7 linked regions of the Homo sapiens genome follow. The protein of the gene in region 5 purifies or fractionates together with the protein of the main gene of each other region. This does not show direct contact. Each region holds a gene or a part of one and is shown on either strand. Other genes may lie near its edges.

The links.
Region 1: the proteins of PTPRK (region 5) and CERCAM purify together in Homo sapiens (affinity purification with mass spectrometry; 3 studies listed by BioGRID and IntAct, with this or other methods). This does not show direct contact.
Region 2: the proteins of PTPRK (region 5) and LRP1B purify together in Homo sapiens (affinity purification with mass spectrometry; 3 studies listed by BioGRID and IntAct, with this or other methods). This does not show direct contact.
Region 3: the proteins of PTPRK (region 5) and PCSK5 purify together in Homo sapiens (affinity purification with mass spectrometry; 3 studies listed by BioGRID and IntAct, with this or other methods). This does not show direct contact.
Region 4: the proteins of PTPRK (region 5) and SCARB1 purify together in Homo sapiens (affinity purification with mass spectrometry; 3 studies listed by BioGRID and IntAct, with this or other methods). This does not show direct contact.
Region 6: the proteins of PTPRK (region 5) and P3H3 purify together in Homo sapiens (affinity purification with mass spectrometry; 3 studies listed by BioGRID and IntAct, with this or other methods). This does not show direct contact.
Region 7: the proteins of PTPRK (region 5) and FBLN1 purify together in Homo sapiens (affinity purification with mass spectrometry; 3 studies listed by BioGRID and IntAct, with this or other methods). This does not show direct contact.

The regions. Positions count from the first base shown.
Region 1 is NC_000009.12:128,430,857-128,434,351, forward strand, and holds part of CERCAM (inactive glycosyltransferase 25 family member 3 isoform a precursor), read left to right. Parts: intron 1-314; coding exon 315-447; intron 448-3,245; coding exon 3,246-3,373; intron 3,374-3,495. UniProt on the Homo sapiens protein: Probable cell adhesion protein involved in leukocyte transmigration across the blood-brain barrier. Does not express any beta-galactosyltransferase activity in vitro.
Region 2 is NC_000002.12:142,121,017-142,124,516, forward strand, and holds part of LRP1B (low-density lipoprotein receptor-related protein 1B precursor), read right to left. Parts: intron 1-3,500. UniProt on the Homo sapiens protein: Potential cell surface proteins that bind and internalize ligands in the process of receptor-mediated endocytosis.
Region 3 is NC_000009.12:75,893,673-75,897,172, reverse strand, and holds part of PCSK5 (proprotein convertase subtilisin/kexin type 5 isoform 3 precursor), read right to left. Parts: intron 1-3,500. UniProt on the Homo sapiens protein: Serine endoprotease that processes various proproteins by cleavage at paired basic amino acids, recognizing the RXXX[KR]R consensus motif. Likely functions in the constitutive and regulated secretory pathways.
Region 4 is NC_000012.12:124,853,865-124,857,364, forward strand, and holds part of SCARB1 (scavenger receptor class B member 1), read right to left. Parts: intron 1-3,500. UniProt on the Homo sapiens protein: Receptor for different ligands such as phospholipids, cholesterol ester, lipoproteins, phosphatidylserine and apoptotic cells. Receptor for HDL, mediating selective uptake of cholesteryl ether and HDL-dependent cholesterol efflux.
Region 5 is NC_000006.12:127,978,600-127,982,099, forward strand, and holds part of PTPRK (receptor-type tyrosine-protein phosphatase kappa isoform b precursor), read right to left. Parts: intron 2,691-3,500; coding exon 2,517-2,690; intron 1-2,516. UniProt on the Homo sapiens protein: Regulation of processes involving cell contact and adhesion such as growth control, tumor invasion, and metastasis. Negative regulator of EGFR signaling pathway. Forms complexes with beta-catenin and gamma-catenin/plakoglobin.
Region 6 is NC_000012.12:6,834,907-6,838,406, forward strand, and holds part of P3H3 (prolyl 3-hydroxylase 3 precursor), read left to right. Parts: intron 1-2,078; coding exon 2,079-2,180; intron 2,181-2,516; coding exon 2,517-2,667; intron 2,668-2,825; coding exon 2,826-2,943; intron 2,944-3,051; coding exon 3,052-3,127; intron 3,128-3,500. UniProt on the Homo sapiens protein: Part of a complex composed of PLOD1, P3H3 and P3H4 that catalyzes hydroxylation of lysine residues in collagen alpha chains and is required for normal assembly and cross-linkling of collagen fibrils.
Region 7 is NC_000022.11:45,530,383-45,533,882, reverse strand, and holds part of FBLN1 (fibulin-1 isoform D precursor), read right to left. Parts: intron 2,619-3,500; coding exon 2,559-2,618; intron 821-2,558; coding exon 719-820; intron 123-718; coding exon 1-122. UniProt on the Homo sapiens protein: Incorporated into fibronectin-containing matrix fibers. May play a role in cell adhesion and migration along protein fibers within the extracellular matrix (ECM).

The sequences.
Region 1 (3,495 bases), on a different chromosome or scaffold from region 5:
AAAAAAAAAAAAACATTAGCTGGGCACCTGTAATCTCAGCTACTTGTGAGGCTGAGGCAGGAAAATCACTTGAACCTGGGAGGTAGAGGTTTCAGTGAGCTGAGATGGTGCCACTGCACTCCAGCCTGGGCAACAGGGGCTCCAGTTCCCCAGGTCCAGTCCCTTGACAGCTTCAGGTCACACAAAGGAGTTACAAGGCAGAAACCTTCTTCAAACCCGACTCCAGTGTGACTGTCCCCAACATGCACAGGCCTGGCCCCTCTGGAGGGGTCTCTGGCAGGCACCCCTCACCCCGCCACACCTGTGTCCCTCAGGATGCTCAACAGCAGTGCCATCAGGAACCTCGGCGTAGACCTGCTCCCGGGCTACCAGGACCCTTACTCGGGCCGCACTCTGACCAAGGGCGAGGTGGGCTGCTTCCTCAGCCATTACTCCATCTGGGAAGAGGTGAGGGTGCCTGCTTCCTCCATCCACAGCCTTCGGGGAGAACGGGGCCAGTTTGTTCTATTCACTGCTCTGTGAACGAGTGAGTGAATGAAGACATTCATCAAAACCTGGCCAGCAGCTTTCAATCTCCTCTGTGTTCAACACCCCAGTGGGCACCACTAAGCGGTGCTTGTTTTCATTCTGCAGTCTCTCTTGAGCATCTACTATGTGCTAGGAGATATTCTGCTCTGAGAACACAGAGGAGGACAGGAACAATGCATGTCTGCTCCTTCCTGCAATAAAGGGATCCCCCTGGGGCTCAGGGACCAGAGCGGGATTATGGAAATCAAAACCAAGCTTGCAGTGGAGGGGAGAGGTATGGGCCACTTTGAGAGGTGCCTCGTGTGGGAGGGGGTCAGAATGGACCTCACCATTGAGGGGCCGGGAGAAGAGGCTTCTAGGCAGAAGAGAACAGTGGGTGCCAAGGCCCTGAGGCAGGAAGGTGTTTAGGAGCAGAAAGAAGGAAGCCTGGGGCTTAGCATGTGCTCAGTACTTGGCCAAGAAGCCTCGGCCCAGGGGCTGGGAGTGTGAGCGCAGGAAAGAGGTTGCTGGACACGGCAGGAGAGAATGGGAACTGGGCCCTCCAAGGGCAGCCCTTCCAGGAGATGGGACATGGATTCCTTGTTTGTGTTCTCTGCTATAGCCAAATATATGTGCACGTGTATGTGAGCATTATGGGTTTTTGTTTTGTTTTGTTTTCTGAGATGGAGTATTGCTCTGTCACCCAGACTGGAGTGCAGTGGCACAATCTTGGCTCATTGCAACCTCTGCCTCCTGGGTTGAAGCGGTTCTCCTGTCTCAGCCTCCCAAGTATCTGGGATTACAGGCATGTGCCACCACACCTGGCTAATTTTTCTATTTTTAGTAGACAGGGGGTTTCGCCATATTGGTCAGGCTGGTCTCGAACTTCCAACCTCAGGTGATCTGCCCACCTCGGCCTCCCAAAGTGCTGGAATTACAGGCTTGAGTCACCATGCCCAGCCTATGTTGGCTTTTTTACCGTCCCTGAACAAATTGGAGGATGACATGGTTCACTACTTTTTTTTTTTTTTTTTTTTTTGAGACAGGGTATTGCTCTGGCACCCAGGCGGGAGTGCAGTGGCGTGATCTTGGCTCACTGCAGCCTGGACCTCCCGGGCTCAAGCAATTATCCCACCTCAGCACCCCCGAGGAGCTGAAACTACAGGCGCGCACCACCACACCCAGCTAAATTTTGTATTTTTTGTAGAGACAGGGTTTCGCCATGTTGGCCAGGCTGATCTCAAACTCCTGAGCTCAAGTGATTCCACCCACCTCAGCCTCCAAAAGTGCTGGAATTACAGGCATGAGCCACCGCTCCTGGCTTCACTACTTTCTGAGCTGATTTCCTTTTCACAGAAGTTATCAAAAGTAGTTTTCCAAAAGTTATTCTAAAGTAACTTTTCCAAAAGTTATCAAAAGTACTTTTTCTTTTGGATATTCGGGGCTGGGGTCTTCCCACCCCCCACCCAGCCCAGCTTCCTTTAGAAAATAGCAGGAGGCCAGGCCAGGTGCGGTGGCTCACGCCTGTAATCCCAGCTGAGGCAGACAGATCACGAGGTCAGGAGTTCAAGACCAGCCTGGCCAACGTGGTGAAACCCCGTCTCTACTAAAAATACAAAAATTAGCCCGGCGTTGGCCGGGCGCCGTGGCTCACGCCTGTAATCCCAGCACTTTGGGAGGCCGAGGCGGGTGGATCACGAGGTCAGGAGATCGAGACCATCCTGGCTAACACGGTGAAACCCTGTCTCTACTAAAAATACAAAAAAATTAGCCAGGCGTGGTGGCGGCGCCTGTAGTCCCAGCTACTCGGGAGGCTGAGGCAGGAGAATGGCGTGAACCCAGGAGGCGGAGCATGCAGTGAGCCGAGATTGTGCCACTGCACTCCAGCCCGGGCGACAGAGCAAAACTCCGTCTCAAAAAAAAAAAAAAAAAAAAAAATTAGCCCGGTGTGGTGGTGGGCACCTGTAATCCCAGCTACTTGGGAGGCTGAGGCAGGAGAATCACTTGAACCCGGGAGGCAGAGGTTGCAGTGAGCCAAGACCATCTTTTGATGGGAACTGCAAGCCACTTCCCCGCCCCCAGAGAGTTGGGCTTCTGGGCCCAGCCACCATCTGTCATGCTTGCACTCAGGCAGCTGGAGGAGTGGGAGGGGAGATGGCTCCTGGTCTTGGCCATGGCTGCTTTGGCCTCCACCGTTCCTGCTCCTCTTCCATGCAGCCCCCTGACTTGGGGGGCCATTTCACTCCAGTCTGGGCAACAAGAGTGAAACTTCGTCTCAAAAAAAAAGGAAAATTGCAGGAGGCCAAAGTGACAAGCTGGGCCCTGGTGTTCAGCAGATGCGGGTTCATATCCCAGCTCTGCCACTTCCTGGCTGTGTGTCCTTGGACAGGCAGTTTCCCATCCCTGCATGTCCACCTCCTTCCTGCGATTGAGGATCATCATCTCCTGCCTCCTGAGGGCCCCTGCAGATACGCAGTGGCACAGCCCTGGGGCACAGTAGCACTCAGGGAATGTAGCAAGGGCCACGGTTACCATCATGATTCTATCTGGAGATCCTCAAATGCCAGAGCGAGGTTGGGATTTCCGGTCCCAGGCAGTGGGGCCCCCAGCAGGCTTTGGGGCAACTGCATGATGTGGCCAGGCCAACTGAGGCCAGGCAGAGGCTGTGAGCTTCAGCGTGGAGGGAGGGGGGTTGTTTAACTCCGAAGAGCCATCTCCCACCCCATTGTATGCCACAGGTGGTTGCCAGGGGCCTGGCCCGGGTCCTGGTGTTTGAGGATGACGTGCGCTTTGAGAGCAACTTCAGGGGGCGGCTGGAGCGGCTGATGGAGGATGTGGAGGCAGAGAAACTGTCTTGGGACCTGATGTAGGCAGCCTGCACCCTCAGGGACAAGGGGGCAGGGTGGGCCTCCGGAGTCTGCCTTTTCCTGCTTGGGACCCTGGCCGGCCCATCCCCTGAGAGCCTGGCCCTGTAGGAGCGGGTGTGGG
Region 2 (3,500 bases), on a different chromosome or scaffold from region 5:
GATTAGAATATTAACCCTTTCCCCCAAAGATTATCTTTTGCGGCTTTATTTCATGCCTATCCTCCCTAATACATAGAATGGTGCTGCATTCGTTCTTATAGAAAATCTTTCTAAACTAAAAATGCAAATCTCTGTTGTAGCTTGTCGTTATTGCCACTACTACTCCCTCATTCAAGCCATCAACATCTTTTCCAGGATGAATTTGATAATCCCTGAACTGGATTCATCATTTCCCTTCTTGTCCTTCTTTTCAGACCAAGCATGATCTCTTTAAAAAGTAAGTTGCATCATTTTCACCTCTGATTAGACAGCCAGTAGCTGCTCAAAATCAGAACCAAACCCAAATGCCTCAATTTGATCTGCATGACCCTACCTGACCTAATCTGACTTCACTGTAAATATGGCTTTCTCTACTTCTGTTCTCTCCCAAACACACACAGTTTATTTCAGACAAAGTGACCTGCTTTCTTTAAAATACCAAAATCACAACTTCCTCTCAAGGGTTGCATAGAAAATTCCTCCCTCTAGATGACTCAGAGCTTGTCCCCTCTCGTCACTTAGTTTTACCAAATATGTCACTTACTCAACAAGGCCTTCTGCGATTATAACTACGACTCCCAATTGCATTGTCCTCAGTCACATTACATTATTTTTCTTTCTTTTTAGCAAGGATGTTATTTATTTATTTGTTTGCTGTTTCTGTCTCCTCTTGCACTAAAGCCCTATCAGCCCAGTTACATTGTCTACCTTGTTCACTTGCTTCATTCCAACCACGTAAAATAGTGATTACCACTTATTTGCTCATCTTTGTCAAATGAGTGAATAAACACATGAGTGATCACCAACTATATGAGTTGCTTCAAGGATCATGTGATTCAGCAAGAAAAAAAAAATTTGAATGAAAAGCGAAGGTATGCTGAAAATGTAAAGAGCTTCTTGCTATTAGTAACTCATATTAAGCAATTAATATAATTAATAAAATAATAGGTATTTATGTAATGCAATACATGATACGATGTGTTTTCACAGACATTACACTCTGTGCACTCACAGAACGTTAGGGTCATAGCTATGTTTATCTTCTCAGAATGGGTCGGAGCAATTTTCTGTAAAACTCTGGTGGTGTTTTCATAGACACCCAGATGAAAATACACACAAGGTAAAACCCTCATGCCCTTCATTACTTTATGTTCTCCTAGCAATGAGAATAGCAAAGGAAGTCAAAATGTGCTAAGATGTTGGTTCTTTCACTGTCAAGATTAATTTCTAAATATTTGACAAGATCACTAGCAAGTGAAAATAGGAAGAAAACGTGCTAGGAGAAGGAACTGTAGAATTGAGTGTAATACAACAACGGACAAAGAAGAAGGTTTAAGTTCTGAATATCTGATATATTTAGTATATCTAAATTCAACATTTAGATTTAGATATTCTAAATGTTGATCATGTTGGATAGTCATCAAATTTTCTTGCAAATAAGATTAGTGTGCTGTTGTATTACAGGACATCAATATAGTGCTCCTGAACTGCTAGTCTTTGTGTTAGAAATGACATCAATACAAGGGCGCTCAGCAAGAGTGCCTGAATTCTGAGTTAGTAATTCCATCTACAAATCTGATGTAGTTATTATGCTTAATGAAAATCTCAAAAATATGGATGCCCAGTGGGCACAATCTGTAGTGCTTTCACCTGATGAGGCAAGAATCTCACTCACGAGGTGGTGTCATTATCACTGTACTTCCAGATCTTAGTCATGAAAAAAATGCCTTAAAAGTTAATAGAGTTGGATAAAGTGGAATATTTCAATAAAGCACACTTGCTATTCTAACATTTTTGTCCCAATAAAAATATACCATTAAAAGCTTTGGAAATGCACAAAATGTCTTAGATAATCTAAAAACTGAATCATTTTTAAATCTCTATAATATCTATTTTAGCAAAAGTTTAAGGTTCTAATTAGCTCAGCTACTTGATCTGAGCAGTAGTGGACAGAAGCTTCAATAAATTCTGACTATCAAAGTTCTCTTTCTTGGCATTGTTTTTCTTCCTTTCCTTACACATCCTAGTTTCAAAAGAAAACAGATGATTCTAAACACATTTCGGTTATCAGCATTACACCTACAGCTTTTCTTTCTCACAAATATCTTAAGATATGCTAGGAACACACAAAGCAACCATAACTAAGTTTCATTTCTCCCCAAAACTCATTGTTAGTTATCTTTTCTCATTTTAAGAAGAAAGGGCTAAGATGACAAATCGTCATTAAAGAAAAACTCAGCGGTAGAAAAATTCTTAAGGAATTATATATTCGTATTTCTAAAGTTAAGCAGTCTTGGAAATCTTGAAGGATGTCAATGCAATGTGGAAAAGTTAGGAAGGGATGTCCTATTGATTGCAAGAATAAAACAAGAGACGATAGGTGGTACCTTGATCTTACCTAAAGAAGAAACATATTCTTTTGACTAAAATGAGGTCATGTTTCAACAATACCTGTCTTTGGTCTGAAGGCTAAGCCAGTCAGGACAATGAGGTGTATGCAACTCAGGAAGAGATGTCTGACTGTTAATAAGAATGTATTGTGAGATGAAATGTAATGTCGGTATCTTAGCAAGGCAACATGATCTATCTTCTTCAAGAAGTTTTTTTTTTTTTTTGGTTATTTTTCTCTTAACAAAGTTGGAAGAAATTGTATATGAAAAGGTACTTTCTCAACTTCTGTAAAGGATATAGTTATAATATTATTCATGTTTAAATGGAAACTTTTAAATACACAAGCTTATATCTGAGAAACTTTTATATACGAGCTTATATTTGAGAAAAATAAGATTAAACAAATGGATCTGTGGTACAAATGTATTAATCAAAATTAATTTTCTTTCTTTTCTAAAGGTAAAGACACCTTTGAAAAGCGTTACGTATTTACAACTATTCTGCAATATTTAAGAAGAAATCCCAAATGTAGACAATACATCATTATTAAACAAATATGAGTAGAGTTATTGAACAACAGAAAAACATGTTTTTTTTAATTTTAATTTTAGATTTGGGGGTACATGTGAAGGTTTGTTACATAGGTAAACATGTGTAACAAGGGTTTGTTGATCATATTATCTTACCACCCAGGTGTTAAGCCCAGTGCCCAATAGTTATCCTTTCTGCTCCTCTTCTTCCTCCCACCCTCCCCCTTGAGTAGACCCCAATCATGTTGAGACATGATTATTTCCAAAATGAACATTACTCTTTTCCACTAAGGATACTTACAAATTTGAAGTAATAGGGAATAAGATCAACAAATGGGTATACTCATTTATTTATTCATGCCATTGCATTTTTAAAAATCATAATTGGGTACCTAATTGTAGACTAAAACTAAGTTAATGTGACTGCATATGAAAATTATTATAGTCATATTTAAAAGAGCATTTAATCCTGTTGTCCAATTTATGAATGATTTCCACTATATATATTCTTTATTGAGAGAAAATCTTTGAAATCACATT
Region 3 (3,500 bases), on a different chromosome or scaffold from region 5:
CTCCCTATGCCTTATTTTAGCTAATACACACTCATCTTCACTATTAGGTCACCTGATTTTCACAGCAACTCTATGAGGTGGATGGAGTAGGTATTATGGCTCCCTATCTGAAAAATGAGGAACTGAGGGTCAGGTTGGTTGATAAAAGTAAAGACCCTGGAATTTCACTCAAACCTGACTCTTAGTCTTGTTTTCTTTCCGATCTAATTTTACTCTCAGGATGAACTCAAATTGGAGAGTTTATTGGTATTGATTGTTCCTCCTTGGTACCCTTTGATGTAGAGATGGATAATCTGTTGAAACTAGTGAGAACACTCATGAGTAATTTTACTCTAAACTATGTGCAAACTTTATTCTGGTAAAAATAAAAATTGACATATATATGCTGTGCATATGTACATATATTACACACATACATATCTGTGTATATATCATATATAAGTATATGTGTATATATGTGTGTGTGTGTGTATTCTAGCATGCATTAATGTCTATAAGCATTTATTTTTACCAGCCAGGAAGCTAAAGTCAGCTTTTCTGTCATTGATCACAACCTGAATTAAATGAATAAAAAAGTCCCAATGCAGAGCAATGCCTGGAGATACTTCAGCCTTGGTAAAAACCAGACACTGCTTCACATAACTTGAACCGACAACAAAAATATCCCTCCCTGCCCAGGGGATATTTCTGGGTCAGGACTCCCTCTCTCAGCCAAAGAGTCAGACATTGCTGAAAATTTTCTCACTGTACTACCCTGTTTCTCTGGCTGACCTTTAAGGTTAGGACCTCTGGATGTAAGCCCATGAAAGACAGTGATAAGGCAAAGTCAGCTGCCTTTAGGCTCACAAAAATGCAGTTTTTCACTTCAAATAGACCCCGAAATCCCCAATGACCACATACAAACCATTCCTTATCTATGAGGTTAATGCAGCAGACACGCCATCACCAGACCATGCACTCTGAATTGTTTTTTCCAGCAAAGGTTCCCCTACTATCCCTTCATTTGCCTCATCATAAGAAATATGCATATGAGAGTGGCTAGCAGGGGTCAGGGCTGAGGATCTTGAGCATGAAGAGTTGCCCTGTGCAAAGCCAGATATATCACACAGAGACCAATCTGGGACTACAGCACCAACTAACTCTCCTGTTTATAAAATGCCTAAGAATTTATTAGGCAAGCACAATCCACTCCCATACAACCCATCAGACTAACCACATCCCCTATTTCCAGGACTATCCATAAGCACCCAGAATTCACTGCCCATGTGAATCAACATTTCAAGCGTCCTATAATATCCACAGCTCAAAATTAATCAGCAGGGTGGGAGGTGTTCAGGACATCTCTGAACAAAGTTCTCCCTGCGAATGTATCTCTTCCTACCTACTTGGAAAATGCTTCTTCTAGCTTTACTCATACAAACTACACTCAGAATAAAAAATAAAATGTAAATGCGAATATGATTTAACAAAATTTTTCAGGTTATTTTTCCTCCCTTTTGTCCATCCGCAGTATGCTTATCCTGTAACATTTCATGGCCTATGACTAGGATGAATGAGGGAAGAGGGCCCTGCCATGGGAAATCAATCCTAATTGTTTAGAATCTAACATAAAACTATTTTTAAACTATTAATATTTTAAATTACTCACTGAAAGGGAAAATCATTTTCCCTGCCTACAAAGCTATGATATGGTTCTTACAATTCAATCTTCAAAAATATATTTTCCTGATCTTCACATTTCGCATCTCCATTTTTAAAATGTCTTCCTTTCTCCTTATCTAAAACTTTGGATCTCAATTATTTTGACCTTTCTCCTCAGATTCAGATTAAACAAACCTTTCGCTGCAAGCCTAACTATGTGCTGAGCAATGCATAGTTAACTCACTCTATTATCTAGAGATTTATCATTTTACAGATGAAGGAACAGAGGCTCCATTAAGTTCAGTGACTTTCCTGCTTTCACAGCCTCGAAAGTGGCCTCTCCAGAGTTTCCAAGTCCACATGCTGTCAATGGGGGGGCTCTAGGTAAAATATTTTTCCAGTATGGCTTGCATTTAGTTTTATCCTTCAGAGGTGTTATTCAAATTGTTATGTGGTTTGGGGAAGGGGCTTTGCTACTGGTAATCTCAGGCTGGAATCAAGGATTATAAGCAACTCACAGAAGGATAAATACAGCTATTGCACATTGTAAACAATCTGTTTGTTCACAAGGGATCTTCTCCCTGAATTCAAATAACCAGACATTAATTCTTCTTTGTAGATTTACTCTAAATGGAGGTCCACAATTAACAACATGTCAGGTCTTATTCCTTTATATCATTTCAATTGCCTAACCAGTAGATTGTTAGCTCAAAGGGTCAGAGCACATGATTAGTGAGGGAGGACAAAGGCTTCTCCCTCTATTCCCGTGCAGGTCAATAGGCATGCACACCTCCTACCCTCGGCCAGCTCAGAAGGTGCTGGTTCCACTAGATACTAAGAGGGCTGGTAGTCAGAACTTGTAGGGAAGAAAAGCAGGGCATTCTGCAGCTGACTCCGATACCAACCAAAAGATAATATATGCTAACATGACAACAACTAACAATGATTATGGTTAAGTATTATTATTGCAGGATTTCAAGGCACAACCATTCACAAAATATAAACATTTTGTGAAAACATATGCTAGCTCTATGAACAAAGGCAAGAAAACCTTCATTTATGTTCCCTTCTGGAAATCAAGCACGTCCTTTTTGCTTGTTTGTTTGCTTTCTTCTTGTGTTACTCTGCACATCCCATCTTTTTTTTAACAGAAGAGGCACAGCTATTATTTTCCATAGAAATGCCCTGGCCAGAAATCTTACCTCTCGTGACTTTCAAATGCTAAGATGCTACACAAAACATTACATTGATATTCTGAGCAAATGGTCAAAACTATACCTTTACTGTGGTGAAAATTTACTACCTTACTCACCTAGAATATCATACCGAAGATATAAAAAATACTACCAGGATAGTAAATGACTGCAGAAATAATAACAAGTTTCAGTTCCAATTTGCAACACGTAAGATGAGACCCCAAGCCCAAATGGGTAAAAAACAGAACATTCCAGACGCATCTGCAAATTAGTTACTGCCCTCAGCTGATCCACAGCTGGTTTACTGATGGAAAGAATAACAAAAGGATGTCTAAAGTGTTGAAAGGTCAGAGCAGTAAAGGATGAATAAGAAATACATTTGGCCTGTACAGTGCAATGATATTGCACGTGTGAACTCCATTTACCACCCCAAAGACTTAGCATAGGCTTAAGCTCCTTTGATCTACAGAGGAAATGCTCTCCACTGTAGAATAGCTGATCTTTTTACACTGGTTCAAGGGGTCCTCTGTAACCTCTATAAGCACTAAATTTCCTCATTGGCGCTGTAAAACCACAATAAATCATCCTTGGTGTTATTTGTATGTAAACTTTCTTAGCATTATTATTTTTAATGAGAAGCCATGAATCTTCACTATAAGGCCT
Region 4 (3,500 bases), on a different chromosome or scaffold from region 5:
ATTGCCCTGCACAGGACCACAACCTGCCACTGGTCACGAACCATCCTGTGAAACAACCCTTGTCTTTTAAACATCCTTTCAATAAATATTTGAGAACCTGCGATTATGTGCTAGGCATCGTTCCAGGGGCTTGGGTCACGGCAACGAATAACACAAAGGTCCCTGCCCTCACAGTCCGACATTCTCATGGGGAGAAATAGACAATAAACAATCAACATGATACCCAGGGAAGTTCCAGGGTATCTACAGTGGCTGACAGGTCTAAGCAGAGCGGGTAAGGAGGGCTGGCAGCACAGGGGGACAAGGGGGAACCTGCATGATGCACAAACGGAATCAGGGGAGGGTCTCCGTGAGCAAGTGAGAGCTGAACAGAGACCTACGGGAGATGAGAGGGCTTGTGTCAGGAGAGCTAAGGCGATTGGGCCCATGGGGCTGAGGAATGGCCAGGAGGCCATTGTGCAAGGGAAAAGGGAATGCGGACGTCGCCAGAAAAGTGGCAGGGGTGGATGGCACAGGCCCTGGGCCAGGTTAGGACCTGGCTGTGACTCCTAGGGGACGGGTCTGGCCATGTCAGGGCTTTGAGGGGAGGAGGTGCTAAGTGCAATCTTGATGGGCTCCCATGGCTGCTTATTGAGAAACCCCACTGGGGAGCAAGGATGAGCACAGGGAGGCCAGTGAGGAGGCGGATGCAGGAATCTGGGGGAGAGGTGATGGTGCCTTGGACCAGAGGTGATGGCGCCTCGGGCGTGGTGAGAAGTAGTTGGAATCTGGGTATATTTAGATGATGAAGCTAGAAAACTTTCTGACGGGTTCTCTGAGGGAAGTGGAGAGAACAGAGTCAAGGCTGAGTGCAAGATGTTGGCCCGGGCAACTGGAAGATGGGGGGGCTATGATGGAGTGGGAAGCTGGTGGGAGCCACAGGTGTGGCCGAGGGTGATGAGGAGCCAGCCGGGGCGAGCGTGAGCTGCCTTTGACCCCGAGTTGAGATACGGACTCTGCTGTTGGACACTCGGGGGTGGGGTTCAGGGGAAAGGTCTGGGCCCAGGGATACCAATTTGGGAGTGGTCAGGACAGAGATGCCATTCAGGCGCAAGGCTGGAGGAGCCCACCCCAGGGATGAGGGATGAGGACACACAGAAAGGATGCCTGGAGCTCCACCAGCAGGAGGCAGGAGGCCAGGGAGATGAGGAGGCATCAGCAGGCAAGAAGACAGAGCAGCCAGGAAGGTGGGAGGAAAACCCAGAGAATGGAGATTTAAAGCGCCTCAAGGGTCCTTCTAGAAGCTTCCAGAGAAGGTGTAAGGAACTTCACCCAAAATGCCAGGAAGTGAACAAGGTCAGGCCCCTCCCGTTCCTTCCCCCTCCCCAGCACAGGCAATCAGTGAACAGGAAGAAACAGTGGAGTGGAGGGAAAGAAAACAAGAAAATTAAGACGGCCAGGCCTTGGGCCATGAGGCTTCCTGGAACCCGGGACCTGGGGAGCTTCTGAGCAGGCGGAGTGTCTCCATATCTCACGCAGGCTTTGGGAGGAAAATCGCCCCCAACACCCACAGGGAGCCAGCCCCTGGGCCCTTTAAGGCTTCAAAGTCAAGAACGCAGCTTTTTGTGTTGTTTTTGTTTCTCTTTGCAAGACAGCTCCAGCCTGGCCACTTGTGGGCCAGCAGAGCTCAAGGTCATGTCCAAACAGGGGGAGGGAGACGAGGTAAATAAAAGGGATTCTCTTTTTGTTTTGCGTTTTTGATTTTTGACTGAGCCCTAGCGTTGAATTCTCCGCACAATTAATGTGTCTGTGGTGTCGGAGCTGCCAGCGCCTCCTGGAGCAGAAGGCCTGGACCGAACTCTCCTCCACAGAATCCTCCAGGCCCAAGATTTAAACCACAAACTCTCTGGGTTCAGCCTTGGGGGGTGTGGCTTATGGCCCCAGGGGCCTCTCTTTTGCTGACCACAGACATGGAATCACCCTCTGGACACTAAGGAACCTCCATGCAGGACCCACGAATGACAGTGCCAACAAGCCTGCAGCAAATCGCCACTGGGGCCAAGACTCATCCAGGAAAAACACCTTCATGGAGCAAGCCCTCCATGGGGACTCACTTCCATCCCATTTGCTAGAAACCAAAGGCCAGGGTAAGGCGATTCCAGGTGGCTGAGCTTCGCCACGTTCTAGTTAATCAGGGTGCATCTCCCGGCGGAGGCACAGCAAGTACCGGCCATTCCGGGAAGGGACAGGGAATGTTTCCTGGAAACCCCAGGTGCTGGGCCTGGCCCCAGAAAGGCCAACCACAGCGGGACACATCAACATGTATGTGCAGACACATCAACACACAAGGACATGCATAAACACGTGTGTTCATGTGTGTCCATTTGCATGTACAGACACACCATGTGTGCCTGTGTCAACATATGTAGGCACACATCAACACAGGTGTCTGCATACACATCATCACGTCGTCACACATCAAGGCAGGTGTGTGCATGCCTACACAGGTGTGTGTGTCACTGTTTTCACCATCAGCACTTGTGTACACACACCAACACACGTGTGTGCAAACACACACACACTCACGAAGACAGGGAGAGGCAAATCTACCAGGAGCAAATAAACTAGACTCACACAAACTAAAAATAGCCCATGTTTTTCAGCCGTCGCCAGGGAGTAAGTTGAAGCTGTCTCTCACATGCTAGAAGGAGTAGGAAGTTCAATGGCAGGAAAGAGGAAGAAAAACAAAACAGAATTGGCACACACCTGTGATCCAAGCTGTCCTCGAGGAGCCCCCTCCCCACCTGTGCCCAGTGATCAGTTCTAGGGCTTTGCCCCACATGTCCAAACAAGGGGGTCCTACAGGAAACGCCCGGTAGGTGGAGACACTGGGCCTCCCCCCCAGGTTCCGCAGGGGGGCTGATAAAGGCGCAGAGCGGGCGGCCCCTGCAGGATGGGTGGGAGTCCAGCCCCCGGGGTCACTGGGAGCCCTGGGCTAGGAACAGGTGGCCTCCCCGGGAGCCTCACTTGGTGCCTTTGATTGGAGAACATGTCCCTGGTCTCAGACTACCCCCGGAAGGGAGAGGCCAGGGTGCACTCTGCACCAGCAAAGTTTGGCGGGGTGATGATTAGGACAAAGCCTCGAAGGGACCCTGCTGTTCCCTGGTGATGCACAGAAAAGGAAGGGGCAGCCCAGGAAGAGAATATAAGAAGGGCACCCCCCGCCGCCCGCCTTAAGCATGCAGTCGACCTGCTCAGACACACGGAGAACCGGGAGGACGCAGTGCGCAGAGGCCACCGGGACCAGCTGTGGAGTCGGCCCCCAGACTTGAAATCCTGATTCAACCGCTTGGAGCTATGTGACATGGGGCAAGTTACTTTCCGCCTCTGTGCATCCATTTCCCTCAATAAAATAAGACACAATAGTACCTATTTTAGATACTAAAATGAATAATGCACATAAACACTTGGAACAGTATCCGGCCACAACGAGTGCCCATTGACTGTTATCTCCCATCAAC
Region 5 (3,500 bases):
AAAAGTTAGAAGAAAGGAAGCTCTTCTTCCAATCAAATGTCTGCTCCATGCAAAGGTAAGTCAAAGCAGACTGACGGCTATCTACTCATTTTTTGAGCCACAGGGGAGGGGATATGCATGAGGAGGAGCTGATAAGAGAGGAGAAGACTGAAGACTTCCTATTCTTTTTCCCTCTAAATGCAGGAACATATGTAAGGCTTTGAAATTACAGAATTCTTGGCCCTAGCTCCTAATCCCTCATAGACCTGGCAAAAGGGTACTAATGATGGGGATAAAGGGTAGGGAGAAAGAAGTGAACAATAAACCCTGTTCTTGTAAATCAAACCAGCTTTACTTCTCCAACGGTTCATTTGCACTACTAAATCCCCAGAACAGCTTTAACTATGAAATGTCTTTTTTTTGAATCACAGGGGATTAAGCAGACAGTAAGAGCAGGTGGATTACAAGCTTCAACTTTCATACAGAAAAAAAGACAAGCTTGGACAAGAAAGCAAGACCCCATCTTTACAAAAAATAATAAAAAAAAAATTAGCTGGGCATGATGGCATACACCTTAGTTCTAGCTACTTGGTAGGCTGAGGTGGGAGGACCACTTGAGCCCAGGAGATTGAGGCTGCAGTCATCTGTGATCATGCACGACACTCCAGCCTGTGCTACAGAGTGAGAGCTTGTCTCAAAAAGAAAAAGAAAAAAGAAAAGAAAAGGAGACAATCTGGACATTGAGAAAAATTTGACAAAGATGCCAATGGCAAAAAATTCAAAGGCATCAATGCTTTTCTAAATATTATTATTTTCTCCTTTTCTTGTTCACACATCCTTTTTTTATTCCATATTTAGATGCAGAAATGAAAAAGTATTGTATGCCATCTCTCTATTTAGTATATTTGCCTTTCCAGACACCTAATATAAAAAGAAAAGGTATAATTAGGATTTAATGTGATTTCAGTGGATGTGATTAATGGCCAGGCAAGACTCCGATCACAGCAAGGATGAGAGCTTTTCACAGGCAAGAGTGACCACAGCAAGGACGAGAGCCTGCCTTTAGACTATTCCGCTTTGCAGCACCAAAAAGAGTAAAGTAACTGGTGAAGACTACTCGTAGAAACAGAATGTGGGCTTAACAGGAACAATAACTTAGAAAGCCTGTTATAGTCAGAAAGAAATGAACCGTGGCTTCTAATTTCTCCTTGATATGGTTTCATAGGAGAAAGGGCAAAAGCTAGAAATGAAGGCAGTAAACTGTTTAAAAAGATTATAAACCATGATAGCTTTCTTGCTTCTTTCCAACATAATCAAAGTAAAGTGGCCAAAGTCATAATTTAAAACTTTCTTTCCTTGGGAGGCCAAGGTGGGCGGATCATGAGGTCAGGAGTTTGAGACCAGCCTGGCCAATGTGGTGAAATCTCATCTCTACTAAAAATACAAAAAAGGCCCGGCACGGTGGCTTACGCCTGTAATCCCAGTACTTTGGGGGGCCGAGGCAGGTGGATCACCTGAGGTCAGGAGTTCAATACCAATCTGACCAACATGGTGAAACCCCATCTCTACTAAATACAAAAAATTAGCCGTGCATGGTGGTGCATGCCTGTAGTCCCAGCTACTTGGGAGGCAAAGGCAGGAGAATCGCTTGAACCTGGGAAGCAGAGGTTGCAGTGAGCCGAGATTGTGCCATTGCACTCCAGCCTGGGCAACAAGAGCGAAACTCTGTCTCAAAAACAAAAACAACAACAAACAAACAAAATAAGCGGGGTGTGGTAGAGCACGCTCCTGTATTCCAAGTTACTCAAGAGTCTGAGGCAGGAGAATTGCTTGAACCTGGGAGGCGGAGGTTGCAGTGAGCTGAGATCATGCCACTGCACTCCAGCCTGGGCGACAGAGTGAGACTCTGTCTAAAAAAAAAAAAACCAAAAACTAAAACAGAAAACTTTCTTTCCATATTGTTCTGTCTATGGGCTATATAACACCCTGCAATTTAAGATTTTAGAATGGGGCAAGATTGTTCTTTCATTATGATGGATGTGTTAACATAATACCATCCATCCCCTCTCTAGTTACTTATAATAGTCCTTATTGATTAATGGCCAACAAATTAATTGTAAATTATTGAAACATTAAATGTCAGAAATAAAAATTTCCCAAATTAACATGATTTTTGTAGGATTTGGCATTCTGTGATTTAAAAAATTCATTTCTAATTATATTCAAAATAGATAAGGCATGATTTTCTTTTCTGAAAATAATTAAGATGAAATTTATAACTTGCAATATTTACTACATGAATATAATAATTGACAATCAAGCTCCAAATCTACAATAAAGCTATAAAAATGACAGTTCTTAAGAATCTCTATAGGGAAAACCTAAAATCATTTTCCAAAAAAATGTGTTTCAATAAAAGTTTCCACTTTTCCTTTTTAGGTTATTTTAATTTCCTCGAAAAGAAAACTAGCCAGTGTTCAGTTGCATTATGTAGCTTTCCACAACACTCTACACTAACAAAGAGGGCAGTCTCTTACGTCCATAAGAGCAGCATTGATGTAGTTACTGCTCTCCCCATCAATTGTAATTAAAAAAGGCAGACATCTGTCAGGTGGCAGCATGTCCATGAAACGGTTCTTGTCATGGTTCCTTGGCAGGCACGCTATACTGCAGTCTTCAGCTTGTAGTCGAGGGGTGACTGAATTCAGAGTCTAAAAAGAAAAGAGAACCCAGGTTAAAAGACAGTGTGACCCATTTAACAGTATAACACAGATCCATCAGGAATTTAGAAGGCCAAGTAGAAAGTGAAGGATTTGTGCGAGGCAATGGCATTTGCTACTATGACAGGCTGATAGACCTTGTAGTTAAAGCTAATGAAGCCTGAGAAGTGACAAAGAAACAAGACACACATTGTTCAGGGCTCCTCTTCTTAAAAGGAAAAGGTACGCTAAACAACACTGCTACCTGCAAAATGCATTGCCTTAACCAAAGAAAATGCAATCGGGCAGTCCATTATGATAATGACCCTTCATCACACTGGGAAACGGTATCATTTGTAGTAACATCTGGGCTTGCCATATTTGAAGATAAGCTATGGCATGTTGGAAAGAGCACTGGATCAACAATCAAAGAATTTGGTCTCTGCCCTTGATTTTATTTTCACCCACCTTCAGGGGTGTTTTAAGGGCAGTGAAAACATTTAGGGCTATTTTGAAATAACATGTACTACAAACTTCATTTATTATTATTATTACTATTATTATTTTTGAGACAGGGTCTTACTCTGTTGCCCAGGTTGGAGTGCAGTGGCAATATCTTGGCTCACCACAGCCTTCCAGGGTTAAGCAAACTTCCAGGGTCAAGCAATCCTCCCATCTCAACCTCCTGAGTAGCTGGGACTACAGGCATGCACCACCACACCCGGCTATTTTTTATATTTTTTGTAGAGATGAGGTTTTGCCATGTTGGCCAGGCTGGTCTTGAACTGCTGACCTCAAGATCTGCCTGCCTTGGCATCCCAA
Region 6 (3,500 bases), on a different chromosome or scaffold from region 5:
CAGCGTGGGCAACAAGAGCGAAACTCCATCTCAAAAAAAAAAAAAAAAAGTATGTCAAATAGAAGCACTGAAATGCAGTTATAGAAGGCTTGCTGGAGAGGTGGTATTTGAGCTCAGTCTTAAGGATGAGTTAGTCAGGCGATTGGGGGTGGAATCAGTCTAAGAGGGAGAAGAGCATGGTGCATTCTGGGAACTGCAGTCAAGCACAGGGGTGAGAGCAGGGCCAGCTCCATAGTCATTACCTGTGTGATCTTGGGCAATTTATTTTAACATCTCTGAGCCTAATTTGCTCATCTATAAAATGAGGATAATAATAGTGTTTTTGTCATAGTGTCGTTGTGAGGATTAAATGAGTTAGCACATGATAAAGCTCTTAGAACACAGAATCATCACTGGCTGGGTGTGGTGGCTCATGCCTGTAATCCCAGCACTTTAGGAGGTCAAGGCAGGTGGATCACTTGAGGTCAGGAGTTCAAGACCAGCCTGGCCAACATGGTGAAACCCGGTCTTTACTAAAAATACAAAAAAATTAGTGGGCATTGTGGCAGGTGCCAGTAATCCCAACTACTGGGGAGGCTGAGGCAGGAGAATCGCTTGGACCCAGGAGGCGGAGGTCGCAGTGAGCCGAGATCGCACCATTGCAGTCCAGCCTGGGCAACAAGATCAAAACTCCGCCTCGAAAAATAAATTTTTTTAAATAATTAATTAATTAATTAATTAATTAAAAAAGAACATAGAATCATCAGGGTGTATGTTACCAAGAGACAGTATAGGGAAAGAGGGAGAGAGCCCACACATGAAGGCCGAGGGACAGTGAGTGTCTTCTGTGGCCTCCCAAGGAGTTTGGGCTTTATCTGTGTATGGTAGACAGCTGTTGCAGGATTTTAGGACGGTTGACTTTTGCATTCCTGTAGTACCTGGAATCAGGTGCAGGGTCTGGAGTCACCTGTAGGAGTGGTAGAGCCCTCTAGTGGCAGTCTGTAGAATGCAGTGGGAGAAAGACCCGGAAAAGGGGAGTAATTGACGAATGCCACCGTTGGCTGGCGAGGTGGCTCACACCTGTAATCCCAGCACTTTGGGAGGCTGAGGCAGGCGAATGGCTTGAGCCCAGGAGTTCCAGGCCAGCCTGAGCAACGTGGTAAAACCCCGTCTCTACAAAAATACAAAAAATTAGCTGGGCCTATGCGCCTATATGTTCCCACCTACTTGGGAGGCTGAGGTGGGAGGACCTCTGGAGCCTGGGAGGTGGAGATTGCAGTGAGCTATGATGGCGCCACTGCACTCCAGCCTGGGCGATAGAGCAAGACCCCGTCTCAAAAACAAAAAATGAAAAAAAAAAAAAACCCCAGGTTAGACGGCTTGGGTGACTAGGTGTCTCTCAGAAGTGAGATTTGTATGCAGGCGTAACTAGATAGTGGTGCTTAAACAAATTCAAAAAGTAGACAAAAAACGGGTGTCAGAAAAGCGAATAATTCCAGTGTAGACATCCAGATATTAGGAGACCCCCAGGTAGTGAGAGTGGTCGCGGAGGTGGCTGGGTAGTTGTGACTCAGTATCAAGGAGTGGGGGAGCCACGGAGTCCACAGTTTCTCCGAGAGCATGTCAGGTGGGAAGAGGTCAGAGAGGGATAGCCCGCTGATGCTGTCTCCCTACCGCCAGTCTGGCCTAACTGTGGAACTTCCTCTTAGGGTCCTGTTTCCAGAGGGACTCCTCTATTCTTGGCTCATCGGGGATTAATGATCAAGCCCTTCCTGCCTAGTTCCCAGCTCTGCCCCACTTTTCCAGCTGTCCCTACCCTCTCAGAGGCCCCCTTACTGCTGTAGGAAGCTCTCCCGAGTTCTCTCCACAGTCCCCTTAGTAAGCGGGATTCCAGCCCGTACCAGAGAGGGACAATCGGACAGCCGTGGCGGTGGGCACTCTCTGGGAAAGAGCAGCAGCTCAGGAAGACGAGCCACAACAGAACTGTGGGAGCATCTAGCTTCTTCTGGAGAGCGGGAGGGCCGGAGGGAGGGTCTTGCAGCCCTGCAGACAGTGAGGGGCTGGGGGAGTGACTCCACGGTAAACTCCTTCCTATTTAGGATGCAGCTGGGGCTGGAGCCAGGTCTGGCTATCGTGGTCGCCGCTCCCCTCACACCCCCCATGAACGCTTCGAGGGGCTCACGGTGCTTAAGGCTGCGCAGGTGAGCACAGGAGGCACCCGGGCCCGTCTGATGCCCAGACCTGGAGGAGAGGCTGTGCAGGAAGCCGGGCCCCAGGGCCTGGGCTTTTGTGAAGGAGCTTTCTTGGGACCGAGACTACCTGATAGGACCCAGCGTGGAGAAAAGGGATGTTCTGAGAGCTGGGGCCGGGGTTGTTGTCATGGAGAGAGAAGGAGCAGTTTGGGCTGATGGACAGAGCTGGATGCTGACAGACTCCAAACCCATGGGTGGAGAGCGGCAGAGTTGGGCAGGGGCTAGGGCCGAGACCACCCTCCCCTTGCCTTCCTCCTTTTCTGCCCTGCCTTTCACTGCCTGCAGCTGGCCCGGGCTGGGACAGTGGGCAGTCAGGGTGCTAAGCTGCTTCTGGAGGTGAGCGAGCGGGTGCGGACCTTGACCCAGGCCTACTTCTCCCCGGAACGGCCCCTGCATCTGTCCTTCACCCACCTGGTGTGCCGCAGCGCCATAGAAGGTACGACAGGGACCCCCCACTGCTCTTCTCCAACCTCAGGCCCTGCCCCCAGGACACTGCCCCCAAGAGCCCCGGGGTGGACGTGCACGGCCTGAGCCCACAGGGTGGCAGATGGGCACAGGGGCACAGAGGTACCCCCAGACCCCTTTGTGTCCTAGGAGAGCAAGAGCAGCGCATGGACCTGAGTCACCCAGTGCACGCAGACAACTGCGTCCTGGACCCTGACACGGGAGAGTGCTGGCGGGAGCCCCCAGCCTACACCTATCGGGACTACAGGTGGGCAGCCCCTCTAGTGGTCAGGCAGGTGGGCAGACAAAGGTCATCCCACTGCCGGCCTGGGCCTGGGTTGGGGTCTCACTGCCTCTTGCTTTTTTCCCTCCCCAGCGGACTCCTCTACCTCAACGATGACTTCCAGGGTGGGGACCTGTTCTTCACGGAGCCCAACGCCCTCACTGTCACGGTGCGTGGAGTGGGGGGTGTGACGGTGTGACAAAGGGCCCAGCTGTGGGGTCAGGATTCAAAACAGAAGGCTCCAGAGGCAAATGCAGGGAAATGGCCAGGGCTTTTAACCCTTTCACTTCCCCGCCTCCGCAGCCCTCCCGCTGCTTCCTCCGTAGCAAGGTCTCTAAGTGGCCGAATCAACCCTACCATCAGTATTTGTCTCGCCTCCTAAAGAAGGGTGAATGAAGCACAGCTTGCAGGTGCCTCCAGGACTCCATGGCCCTATTCTAGGGATTTGGGGAACTTGAAATAGTCCTTCCTCTTTGCAGCGAGGTGAGCACAGTGGCTGGCGCACAGATACCAGGGCCGCCTTGACTGGGGCTCGGATTCTG
Region 7 (3,500 bases), on a different chromosome or scaffold from region 5:
CTCTGTGAGCTCATAGCCAGTCCCGCAGCTGCTGTCCCGCTGGCAGCGGAAAGAGCCCACTGTGTTGATGCAGGATTCTCCAAGCCGGCAGCTGTGGCTGCCCGTGATGCATTCATTGACATCTAGGAGAGACCGAGGCAGTGCGGGGGTGACCAGCAAGAACGACCCATCCTAATACATCCTAGAAAGGAATGTGCCAAAGCCACGGTGGAAGTGCTTCCCTGCACCCTCGCAAACTGAGCTCAGGTCCACCATGTGCACATCCGGGCTGTGGACTGCACGGAGTCGAAAGCAGTGATTTCTCTCCCCTGCTAACGTTCATATCTACTGCTTTTTCTGAGACTGTAGTTATGTGGTCCTCAAGAACCCCACGGAGGGGCAGCATCTTCTCCATCTCCCCCATCTCACAGACGCGGGGGCCAGGAGAGGCTGAAGGATGTGCCCAAGGCCACTCAGCAGATCCTGGATCCGGAACCTGGTTAGACCCCAACTCCATCCTCTTTCCCAACCCCAGTGCTTATATTGTCTTGGAGGGAAGTCTCGGCAGGGGCCTCTGCGCTGCAAACTCCAGCGAACACGAGAAAGCGCGTCCTGGGCTGCTCTCCACCCCTGAATGGGGTCTGGGTTGTAGAAGGCAGGCCCTGGTCAGTCCTCCAGCACAGAGCTCCCAAGCACAGTGACCGGCCAGTCCTGCTGGCACCTGGGATAGGGACATTACCTTCACAGGAGACACCATCAGACAGCAGCTGGTAGCCCACGAAGCAGGAGCAGACCACCTCGTCACCCGTGTCTCGGCACTGCTGCTTGCAGGGCCCGCCTCCTGGAAGCACAGCGTGCATGAGCCAGGGATGGACGCACCCAGGCACCGCCTGGTTTCTAGCTCCGTTCAGGCTGGGTCATAGAAAACGCCCTCTGGGCAGACGAACCCAGGAAGGCAGGCTGACCTGGCTGGAGCCCACCTGCTGCCCTACTGGGAGACCCCCAGGCTCTGGCTCTGGACACCCCCCAGGGGCTGCTGCTTCAGGTCCCAACCTCCCCGTCTGGAAAATCAGGTGGTGTGCAGGGTGCCCTTTGTAGGCTGGGGTGGACCTGGAAGGGGCGAAGCAGAGAAGAGCTCACTGCCGGTCACAGACATGGGGGTGTGGGCTCCACGTGGAAGGCCAGGCCCCAACTAGGCCTCATGTACCTGCTCCTCACTGAACTCTCGAGCTGTCCCACTGCTCCAAGCCCACTACCATGGCCTCAGTTCCTGCAGCTGCCCACCTGGCTGTGGCCACAGCCTCCTACCTGGTCTTTCTGCATAGCCCAGAAGCACCCCACAACCTGTTCTTCCTACAGGGTGGCCAGAGTGATGCTCAGAGTGCAAATCTCATCAGGATAAGCCTCAACCAGGGAAAGATTCTACGAGATACACTTCTAACTGCTGCCAGCCTGCCTGCTTCTAGGGCCCCTCTCTCTGGCCCTGTAACCCCACCTCCTTCCCCAGCCCACTGCCTCCCAGTACCCTGCTACAGTGGGTCCGTGCCCTTTACAAGGCTTCAGGTCTCCCTGAGGACCGTTTCAGGGTTATTTTCCCAGCTAATCCCACCTCCTCCTTGCAGACCAGCTCTCCCCTCCCCAGAAAGCTCCTCCCATAGCCCTGAGGCTTGCTGGGGCTCTAGGTCACTCCCTTCCTCCCTCCACCAGGCCCCTGGACAGCGCCCCTGGACCAACTGTCACTGTACACTGACTGCATCATTTAAGAATTAAACTGGCCCCTAATTAACACCCTAACCACAGGGGGAACCACTGAAAGAGCTTGTGAGGCAGATCTGCAGGTCTAGACATGCCAGAATGTTCCATGAAAGAAAAGCAGTTTTATCATATGAAAAACAAACCTGCGAGGCCCTTAGTTAAATGTGCAGACATCTCCCTGTGAGGCAAATGAATATCACCAATGGTGACAGAACCGTGGCTGGGGCTCCAGGGGCACAAAGGCAGGGAACGCTGAGCCCCCTCCTCTCCCCTGAGAGCCTGAGGGAGGCCTCTGTCACCTTCACAAGGCCTGGGGGCTCGGTAACGTGCAGGCTTTCCACACCAGCTCTGGCCCTGGGCCTGGGCCACCCTCCCCAGCAGGGCCTCACCAGGGCCCCTCCTTGGTAAGCCCACCCTTCCCCTCCCCAGCCAGCCCTAGATCTGGAAGGGGAAAGGGAAGGAGGAGCTGGGAGTCCACGACTCCTCAGGGTGGAAGTGGCTCATGGCTGGCTCCCAGCCAAAGGGTACTTTGCAGGGTAAACCAAAGCAAAACCTGGATTCCAACTTCCAGTGAGATCAGCACCGAGATTCCTTGGTTTTGCTTTTTGTTTGTTTGTTTTTTTGTTTTTGAGACGGGGTCCAGCTCTGTTGCCCAGGCTAGAGTGCAAAGGTGCAGTCATAGCTCACTGCAGCCACAACCTCCTGGGCTCAAGGAATCCTCCTGCCTTGGCTTCCCAAAGTACTAGGATTACAGGCCTGAGCCACCTTGCTGGCCCCTTGGGGTTTGTTTAAATACCAACTGATGGGAGACGCCCGAGTCTCACCTCGGCAGCGGTCATTCAGATATGGGTCCTCTTGTTCCTCCTCAACCTCAATGATCTTATCTAAGGGGGAAAAAGACCAAGTCAGACATTTATCCAAACACCCATCTTATCTTAAAAGAAACTCCCAACATTCTCTCTTCTTGTCACTATCAGGCAGTAATGCCCATTTGAACATCTTATATAAACAGCTAAGTATTAACTTTATCCTCTTTAAGCTAGAATTACACTTGAAAATGTATAATTGATATCTGATCAATTATAGGCCAGGCGTGGTGGCGGGCACCTGTAATCCCAGCACTTTGGGAGGCCGAGGCAGGCGGATCACCTGAGGTCAGGAGTTCAAGACCATCCTGGCCAACACGGTGAAATGCTGTCTCTACTAAAAATACAAAAATTAGCCAGGTGTAGCGGCATGCACCTGTAATCTCAGGTACTCAGGAAGTTGAGGCAGGATAATCGCTTGAACTCAGGAGTCGGAGGTTGCAGTGAGTCAAGATCACACCATTGCACTCCAGCCTGGGCAACAAGAGCGAGACTCCGTTTCAAAAAAAAAAGATCAGTTATAACAGAAAGACCACAGACACAAAGGCCTGTAATCATTGACTTCATGCTGGGTGATATTCCCATAGTCCAAATTACTTGACCATCTCAGCAAATGCAGTCACAGCCTTGCTAACAACCAACACACGCCCTCCAAGTCTAAAGCAATGCACGCAGTAAAAACTTGAGTCTCCTGATTGATTCTATCAAATGCTATTATGTGTTTGAAAAGGGTTATTCTCCATTTCTGTACTTATTTGTCGCAGGCCAGCACTGGTCTGGGGACCTTCTGCATGGCCCCCAGGAAACATACAGTGGGTCCATGGCACTGGTAGCAGTGGGAGGAAGGTGCGGCTGTGAAGACAGGAAGCCCTCCCAGAGGAGGGAGCATGCGAGGATAGT